Linked DNA regions of Homo sapiens: all the other regions are linked to region 1. Evidence: fine-mapped expression QTL. A gene starts in region 1. Each other region holds a variant in brackets. All regions are shown on one strand. Distances are from middle to middle. Region 1 holds the start of MAN1C1 (mannosidase alpha class 1C member 1). Region 2 overlaps MAN1C1 (mannosidase alpha class 1C member 1). Region 3 overlaps LDLRAP1 (low density lipoprotein receptor adaptor protein 1).

What was found. PIP is the estimated chance that this variant, and not a neighbour inherited with it, causes the effect. A credible set is the group of variants that fine-mapping cannot tell apart.
Region 2: its variant is the best candidate, but not a certain one, in a credible set for the expression of MAN1C1 in cerebellar hemisphere (GTEx, PIP 0.85).
Region 3: its variant is the best candidate, but not a certain one, in a credible set for the expression of MAN1C1 in whole blood (TOPMed, PIP 0.65).

The regions. Positions count from the first base shown.
Region 1 is chr1:25,615,636-25,618,385 of GRCh38, reverse strand. MAN1C1 (mannosidase alpha class 1C member 1) reads right to left here and starts at 1,595. Exons shown (of 12, transcript NM_020379.4): 1 at 49-1,595. The coding sequence starts at 588. RefSeq lists silencers at 1,370-1,659, 1,680-1,969 and an enhancer at 2,160-2,329.
Region 2 is chr1:25,780,390-25,783,139 of GRCh38, reverse strand. MAN1C1 (mannosidase alpha class 1C member 1) reads right to left here. Exons shown (of 12, transcript NM_020379.4): 10 at 2,028-2,200; 11 at 440-555. Among named protein-coding and RNA genes, the nearest start is that of SELENON, 18 kb to the left of the region's middle. RefSeq lists enhancers at 1,923-2,545, 2,546-2,750. The variant T/C (reference allele first, on the strand shown) is at 1,237.
Region 3 is chr1:25,561,610-25,564,359 of GRCh38, reverse strand. LDLRAP1 (low density lipoprotein receptor adaptor protein 1) reads right to left here. Exons shown (of 9, transcript NM_015627.3): 5 at 1,644-1,716; 6 at 1,207-1,290; 7 at 569-699. Among named protein-coding and RNA genes, the nearest start is that of LDLRAP1, 19 kb to the right of the region's middle. RefSeq lists an enhancer at 489-1,116. The variant C/T (reference allele first, on the strand shown) is at 1,179.

The DNA.
Region 1 (2,750 bases):
CCTTAGAGGGGGCAGTTGGTGGGAGGAGTTTGGGGGCTGAGTCCATACCTCCTTGATTTTCTCCCGCTGGGCTCGCACTTGGCTCTGGGGCTCCTGACTCTCATCGGCCCTCGTTCCCAGGACCGGGTGGCGGAGACGGCTCCGGAATGCGTTGAAGTCAAAGCGGAAAGGGACGCCCTCGTCCCCGGGCCTGGAGGCCGGGATGCTATTGCCCCGGGCCGCCGTGGCCTCCTCGCGGGGTCCAGTGGGGCGGGTGCGCCGCAGCCCCCCTTTCCTGCGGCGGGGACTGGCCCAGCTGCTGGGGTCATCCTCGCCCGGGGCCGGCGCGGCGGGGGCCGGGTTGGGAGGCGGCTCCTGCTCGCGGGCCGGGGCATGGCCGGCGATTTCAGCCACCACTTCCAGACCAGGCTGCTGGGTCCGGGGGGCCAGGAAGAGGCGCTTGAGGCGAGAGGAGTGGGGCAGCAGGAAGAGGGCCCCGAAGCACAGGGTGACCAGGCCCGAGAGGAAGAGGAGGAAGAGGAACTTCTGCGGCAGCCGCAGCCCCCACGGGGAGGCCGGGACGAAGCCGGGCACTTTCCTCATGAGCATCGTGGCCCGGCCGGTGGCTCCAGAAGCCCTCGGAGTCCAGGCACGTGTCTGCGGGGGCGCGGTGAGGGGAGGGCGTCCGGAGCGCCGCCCGGGATGGGGGTCCCTGGGCAGGGTTGCCAACCCTGAGAGTTTCGCCGCTTCGGGGGACTGTCCCCGAAGTTCAGGGAGTTTGGAGCGAGTCCTCCCGCGAGGAGGCGGGGGCGCAGCGGCCTCGGCGGGGCCCGGGCGAGCGGAGCGGCACGGCTTGGGGCCCGGGCCCGCAGCGACCGGCCGCGCGCCGCAGCCTCCCCTCCGGCCGAGCCCTCCCCGCCGCGCCGGGGCCCGCGCCTTCCCGCGCTGCGGCCGCCGGGACCGTCACATGCCGTCCGCGGCGTCCCGGCTGTCCGCGCCGAGGGGCGCCCGCAGGCCCGCACCAAGCCGCCCTCCGCCCCCTAGGCTCCCGCCCGCGCTGGTAGGCGCCCAAAGTTTCAGCTTCAGAAGCAGTTTCCGGAGGGGACCGAGGCGATGGGGGGCTGGCGTGTCAGCGCCGCCCCGAGCGCGCGCACACCCGGCCCGGTCGCGACAGCGCCCGGGCTCGACTATCGGGACACGTCCACAACTTTCTCCGCCGCGGAGAGGGCGCCGGGAGCTGGGAGCCGGAGTGGCCAGGGAGCAGGAGCAGGCACTTCCGAGCCTGCGGGGGCAGGGGGCTTCCCCCGGGCCCCAGACAGCGCAGGGATGCCTGGGTCCGGAGCCGCGGCTGGGCGGCTGCAGATGCGCCCGGGAGCGCGGGCTCCCGCCCCTCGAACTCGGCAGGGCGCGGGGCTCCCACTGGGATCACCTGTTCCCGGCCCCGCCGGCTCCGCGGAGCGCGCAGCCCTGGCCGCGCCTCCCCCGCTGCAGCTGTCTTCCTCGCAGCGGCCGCTCCAGACCGGCCGCTGCCGCCGAGCCTGCGCCCCACACGCGCGCACAGCCACCCGGCCGCCTCCACCGCCGTCCCCGCCGCCGCCGCCGCTCGGGCTTTCACTGCGACAGCGCCCGCCGCCCCGCCTCCTGCCGCCCGCCGGCCACGCCCGCCGGCCACGCCCACGCGCGCGCCCCGCGCCCCCTCCCGCCGCCGCCGCGCCGCAGCCGGCTGAGGGCCGCGCGTCCGGGGGCGGGGCAGAGGCCGAGCGCGGGCGGGAGCGCAGCCCGCTCCAAGCCCCGCCCTCCCCGAAGGGCAGGCGTCGCGCGCACCCCCCATCCAGCGGGCGCCAATGGTCCAGCGGCGCGGGGCAGGCGAGGGCGGGGGCGGAGAGCGCAACGAGGGCATTGGCTGCATCCGAGGGATCCCCGTTGGGCCACAGTCGTCCATTGGTTACTGCCCAGCCTTCGCTGGACCCCAAGCGACAGAGACCACCCCCCAGCCCGCCCGCGAGGCTCGGGTTGGTGGCCCCCGGAAGCGGGCCGGAGACGGTGTTGCTCTGGAGGGGTGTGCCCGTCGCTGGGTGACCTCTCTCGCCCCCGAGTGCCAGCCCGGGGTTGTCAGGGAGCTGGCAGCCCGCGCCCTGGCGGCTGCCCCGGGCTTCTCAGCGCTAACGCCGGGCTGCAGGGGTGCTGCTGGTGGCTGGAGCCAAGCCAGAGAGCTGTGACCGCGGCCGGGTCGGCGGAGGTGATGTTTCCACTGGCCCCCTCGCAGACCACTGGCGTGCCTTCCTTTTCCCACAACCCTAAACGGGGCCAGGGCTCCTGGGTGGAGCACGGAGGGAGGCTGACCGCAGCCTTGAGAAGCAGCGAAAGGAAGAGAGCCCCGGGCGTGTCTACAGAAGACCACACACATAATGTGACGGACGTCTACCTTGATGCCTACGTGTGTTTATATGCACATGTGTGCGTCTGGGCATAGATCTATATGCACACAGAGACTGGCATGTGGGTGTGTACATGCACTCAAACATACACTTAATTTGGGTATGGACACCCAAGTGATTATACCACAGTATGCATAGACATATATGTAAATTAGTACAAACATGGACATGTGCACCCGCATACCCACAGACACTCAGGCAACAGATAACCTCCAAAAACAGCCAGGCATCAACTCCCAGACACGCGTGTCCTCAACCCCAAGGCCCTCACATCTTCCTCCTTGGACTTAGTCTCTGCATCTTCCCTTCCTGTTAAACCTAACCCAGGGTGAA
Region 2 (2,750 bases), 160 kb before region 1:
GTGAGGAAGTGGGATGGCCAACTTCCATGGCATGAAATCGAGGAGGGCACAGCAGCCACACTGCAGAGGCCACAGGAGGGAAAGTCAATGCCAGCAACCAGCACTGACATCATCATCGTTAACCCTATCCCATTTTACACACGAGGACGCGGTTCCCAGAACGGAAGCAACCTGGGGAGATAAGCGAGAAACTGAAGGAACCTGCGGTATCACACGGTGCGTCCCTAGGGAACTTGGATTCTAGCCCAGTCTCACTCTCCGAGAAAGCGGCCTGGCCCAAGGCTCACACCTGGGGTGCAGCCCTCTGGATCCCAAGCCCTTCACCCCTTTTGGGCTCCCGTCCTGTGACCACAGAACCTGACTGTGGAGGGGAGGGACTGCGGACCCCTACCCTCAACCTCCCACCTGTCCATCCCTAGGAAGAGCCCACACTGCTCACTTTAGTGTCTCCGCTAGAAAGAAGCTCTGCTGCTTGTTGTCGTGGTTGGGGGTGCTACTGTACACGTCTTGGATCCCAGAGAAACCGGCTTCTGTCCGACAGTATTTCTCCAAGGCCTGAGGAAGGGGAAGAGGAGGAGGAAAACAGCCTTAACACGGGACAGGAAAGGCCCCTCAAGACTTGTGCATGCCTGGCAGGCTGGAGCTAGAAGAAAGCAGACAGCACCCCCACCCCTTGGCTGGGGACTCCTGGCATTTGTGGGAACAGAAGGTCAAATTATTCTTTCGGGGTTTAGCCACCTGTCCCCAGGCTGGAGGGGCCACACTCCTTCCACCCACACCTCTGAGAGCTCTGGCCCGATGGGCTGCCTGTCCTGAGCTCTTCACCTGGTTTGAACTTAGAGGAAGCTTCTCTTTGTGTTTCAGGGGACTAGGCTGGTCTTACAGATTCACCCACAGTGGTAGGCAGAGGTGAAGAGAAGCCACGGGTGATGGCCATGGGCTGGGATTTGGGGACGGACTTGGTACTCCAGGGATTCTCAGGAGAGATGGCCCCTGGGCTGGAGGCAAGTGAGCCAAGCCATTCATCTTTCTATATAAATGCATTTTTTTTTCTTGAGACAAGGTCTCATTTTGTCGCCCAGGCTGGAGGGCAGTGGGGCGATCAGAGCTCACTCTGCAGCTTCAACCTCTGCAGTTCGAGCAATCCTCTTGCCTCAGCCCCTCAAGCAGCTGGGACTATAGGCGTGCGTCACCATGCCTGGATAATTTTTGTATTTTTCTGTATAGATGGGGTTT[T/C]GCCGTGTTGCCTATAGGCTGATAAATACAATTTCTACCCACGGAGGGGGTCTATGGACTGGGCATAGGAGCACAAGACGCTTGGCCTTTGAAGGCCAAGAACAATGGTCCTGGGGAAGCAGGTGGACTTAACAGGGCCAGTAAACCTGAGCATGCCCTGGACCCCGTCTGAGTGCAATGCTCGGAATGGGCACGGGGGTGGTGGGGGAGATAGGGGCAGAGAAGGCTCAGCATCCACCAGGGAACCTGCTGGAATCCCCACACCTGCCTTTGACACCTCCCCCAAGACAGCCATTAAATTTCCACCTAGGTGTGGGGCCGGAGGCTGAGGGCAGGGTAGGCCTCAAGGGCCAGTAGAGACTAGGGTGGGGGGGTCCCTCAGGCTGGGCTGCCTGTGGGAAGAGGAGGGAGGTGGAGGTGAGCTGCCCAGCTTCGAGATCAGGAAAGCGTCTGTTGGGACAGCGGTGGCCGCGTGGTGCCTGCGTGGTGCTCTAGGCAGCTGCCTAGCCTCTGACCCTCTAAGTTTGCTGAGGCCTGGTCCCAGGCCCCAAGGATATGGGCACTCAGAACCCTCTTCACAAGTCTGGCCTGTCCTGTCTCAGGACAACTTTGCCCAGCTGGGGACTCTTGGCTCTGTAACCACCACCTTGACCCTTTGCACTCTGAACTGTGGTCAGAGGTCAACGTGGCTTGGCCTTCCACTCCAGGCCCAAGCCAGGGCACCTAGCACCCAGCCTGTAAATTCTCAGGGGCATCTAGCACCTTGCTGCCCATCCCTGGGGCCCACTCACCAGCACCACCTCCCAGCCCCACTCCCTGTAGATGGGGTTGTGGGTCTGTCGCCACAGGTACATGTAGCTCTCCACCACCTCTGGCCGGAGGATGTAGTAGCTCTCGCTCAGCTGGGTGGCCACGGCCTCTCTGCCGGAGTTAAACCAGAAGGCCTCAGGCCCAAGTTTGGTGTCTGGGGAAACAGCCAAGCAGAGGGCCCAGGTCAGACCTCCCACCTCCTGCTTTTCGGGATCCAGGAGAGATGTCAGTTGCCTTGAACCCGCGGCCAGGGTGATGTCAGGTGTGTGTGGGTGTGGGGTGCCCCTGCCTGGACTGCTGTGTAAGGCTGCACCGGGCAGATGCACAGCTTCCCTCTTGGCCTGGGCTGGACAGAACAAGACCCTCGGGGACTGGAAATGTGAGCAGCTTTGGACTCTGAGAGTCCAAATGAGCTACTCAGCAGTCTGGGTAGGTGAAGGTTTGGGCGGGGTTCCACAACTGTGTACTTTGAGGCAATAGCTCTGCAAGAGGTTAGCCAGACCTCAGCCAAGAGGGTTTCGGGTTTCAACACATCTGGGGAACCGAGGGTTAAACAAAATAAGTCTCCCATCTGCAGGATTTATCAGATCCTTTAATATGCTAATGTGAAATGAGGCTTCTCCTTGGGACCCTTTGTCTTAGAAAACTGCTTTTAACACCTCCCAGAACAAACTTCGAGAGTTTGGGAACAGCTGAGGTAGAGA
Region 3 (2,750 bases), 54 kb after region 1:
GTGAACAGGAATTCTCTGTACTAATTTTGTAACACAGTCTGAAATTATTTCCAAATGAAAAATTAAAATTAAATTTCAGGTTCCTCGGGGAGATTCCGTTGGCAGAGGTCATCACCCTTACTGAGATGAAAAAGCTGAGACAGAGAGGTCAGGGGGCTTGCCCTGAGTCCCTGAGGGAGTCAGGGACCAAGCTGGTGACTGCCCAAGTCTCTGGGTCCTCATTCAGGCGGCTGAGGGGGAGGGGTGGTAGGAGCGAGCTCTGCCACACCAAGAACAAGGGCGCCTTTGGCTGGTCTTGTGGTGGGCAGAGCCGTGGACGCTCAGGCCAAGAGGCCAAGCATTGTGAGGAGACAGCTGTGCTGGGAGCCAAGCCTGTTGGGGATGCAGCCTCAGGTTCAAAAGGGACATTGTTCATCCCCTATCCTGCGCCTGGGCACTACCGGGCTGGGTCTGGTCCTCCCAGAGGCCCACAAGTCACGGGTCCCAGGGCCTGGTCCCTGGAGCAGCCCCAGGCTCACCCAGAGGTCAGGCTGAGGATCACCGATCTGCTGGCCACACAACCACTCACCCAGACAACACTGCTGCCACTCAAGGCTTGTGGCCGCGGCACCTCGTCCATGTTGGTGGTGTTGGCGCTGACCGTGGACAGCGGGGCCTTAGCTGTCTCCTCTAAGTCCAGCAGGTTCCCAGTGGCGACCACTGTGAGGGATCCGGTCAGGTTGTCAGTGGGAGATCAGCCTCTTCCTTCCTGGCCCCCTCCCTGGGCTGTCCTGGCCCTGACCCTCCCCTCTGATGTGGCCTTGCCCAGGCCTCCCAGCAGAGCCCGGCCCTGGCACCTCCCCACAGCAGATGCGCAGCTGCCCACAGAGTGAGAACCTGACTAATGGCTTAGACTGAAACTTTTGTATTCACAATAGTTAAGTTTTCTTAAGCAACCACACAATACTATGTTAAGTATATAGAAAGATAGACGCATATTTATATATTTGCATAGGGACATATCTAGAAGAAAATGTACTAAAATGAGTTATTTCTTCCCCTTATCTACATTTTCTAATTGATCTGTAATGAACGTGTATTATTTATTTAACAAAACACAAGTGAAAAACCAAGAGGCTCTCCCAGCCCAGGCAGGAGTGGGACCCCCCTGGGTGAAGCGCAACCCCAACACCGCATGG[C/T]CAATCCCCCTTCCCCGTCAGGACTCACAGCTCTTCAAGGAGGGGGTGCAGTCTTGGCGGGCCCCCAGGACGTCCCCTCCCTCTTGGCTGGCTTTGTCCCTCTTCTCTTTCTCTGCAGGACCAAGGCACAACATGTTGGAGCCTCAGACCCCAGCACTCTGTCCCCAGCAATCACCGGGCAGGGGTGATTAGCGGTGGCCAACCTCAAGGGGCAGTTTCAGGTTTCCAGCCGGGAGGAAAGAAACCTTTCGGATGTCAGTTAATCCTCACAAGCACCTTTGGGGAGGGAGACGGCTGTTCCCATTTTTCAGATGGGAAAACCGAGACTCTGAGCGGTGAAGGGACCTGCTCACAGTCACAAGCCAGGTGGGTGATGAGGCAGGAAGTCGGTCCAGGTCTGACCCCAGGGCCTTTATGTGTCTCCCCACCTCCCACCACACCCACAATGTAGATGCAAAGTCTCACCTTCCTTGGACACCTGCCAAAACTCAAAGGCGACTTTGAAGGCCTGGGCTACGGTGAGGGTAACAGCCTGTGCCTGAAAACAGGAAGTGGGGATGGGGAGGGGTGCAGTGTCAGCCAGGGCAGAGCAAGTCTGCACTGGAGGGCTGGGGCCTCCAGGCCAGGCCCCCTGGCTCCCTCCCTGCAGCTTCTGCAGCTCCATCCCAGGCTCTGGAATGCCTGCTGGGCAGAGCAGGGTCCTGGCCCTTCCCAGGTCTCCAAAGCAGCCTGGGGTGTCATAAGGCCATAGCCTCGCAGAGGCAGTAGAGTCCCCATCTTTACTATCTCTGGCCCCACCAAAGTTCTCACTCTCACTCTAGGGCCCCTGCCTGCAAAGGCTGTTCTTCTCCAGGTCTTTTCCTTCCCCTTTGGGCTTCCCTGAATTCAATGAACTGTGAGGCTTACTTCCTCCAAGAAACCCTCCCTAATTACCTGTGGACTTAGCCCTTGGAATTGGAGAACAGAAAAGCCAGAATTGGAAGGGCCCAGCCATTGCCCCAAATGAGCCACAGCCAGAGAGGTGAAAGTTAGGTTCCGGTTGGGACCATAACTGGATCCCACAAAGAGAGTAGAAGGCTTGTCAATTTCCTGATAGGAGCAAGATGTCAATGAAGGCCCGGGGACCAAAACCGGTCAGTGCTATAACCCACCTGTAAGGAAGGGCCACACCTCGGCCCTTCACCCCAGGGGAACTCTCCCTCACCCCTCCAAACCCAACTCAGATGTCACCACCTCTCCTGTCACCAGTCCCAGACTCCTCGAGCCCCACCCACCTCCCTCTGGCACTATGCATGTGAAAGTGTCACTGGCTCCCCTGCCTGTGTTTCCCCCAGCTTTGTGCACCCTAAAAGCAAGAATCAATCTGAACACCCCTGCCCTCGGGAGCAGGCCAAAGCCTCCCAGAGGTGGCAACAATGCTGGGTGAATTACATTCACCTGAGGTGCAGGCCTCATTCCACCCAGGACCTATCCCCAGCCCATATTCATCTCAACACCTTCCTCTCTCAGCCATTCCAGTCCAGGGTTAATCAGCTCAGCTTCTGGGAGTGGAAGTCCCAGAGTTCGTAGCTA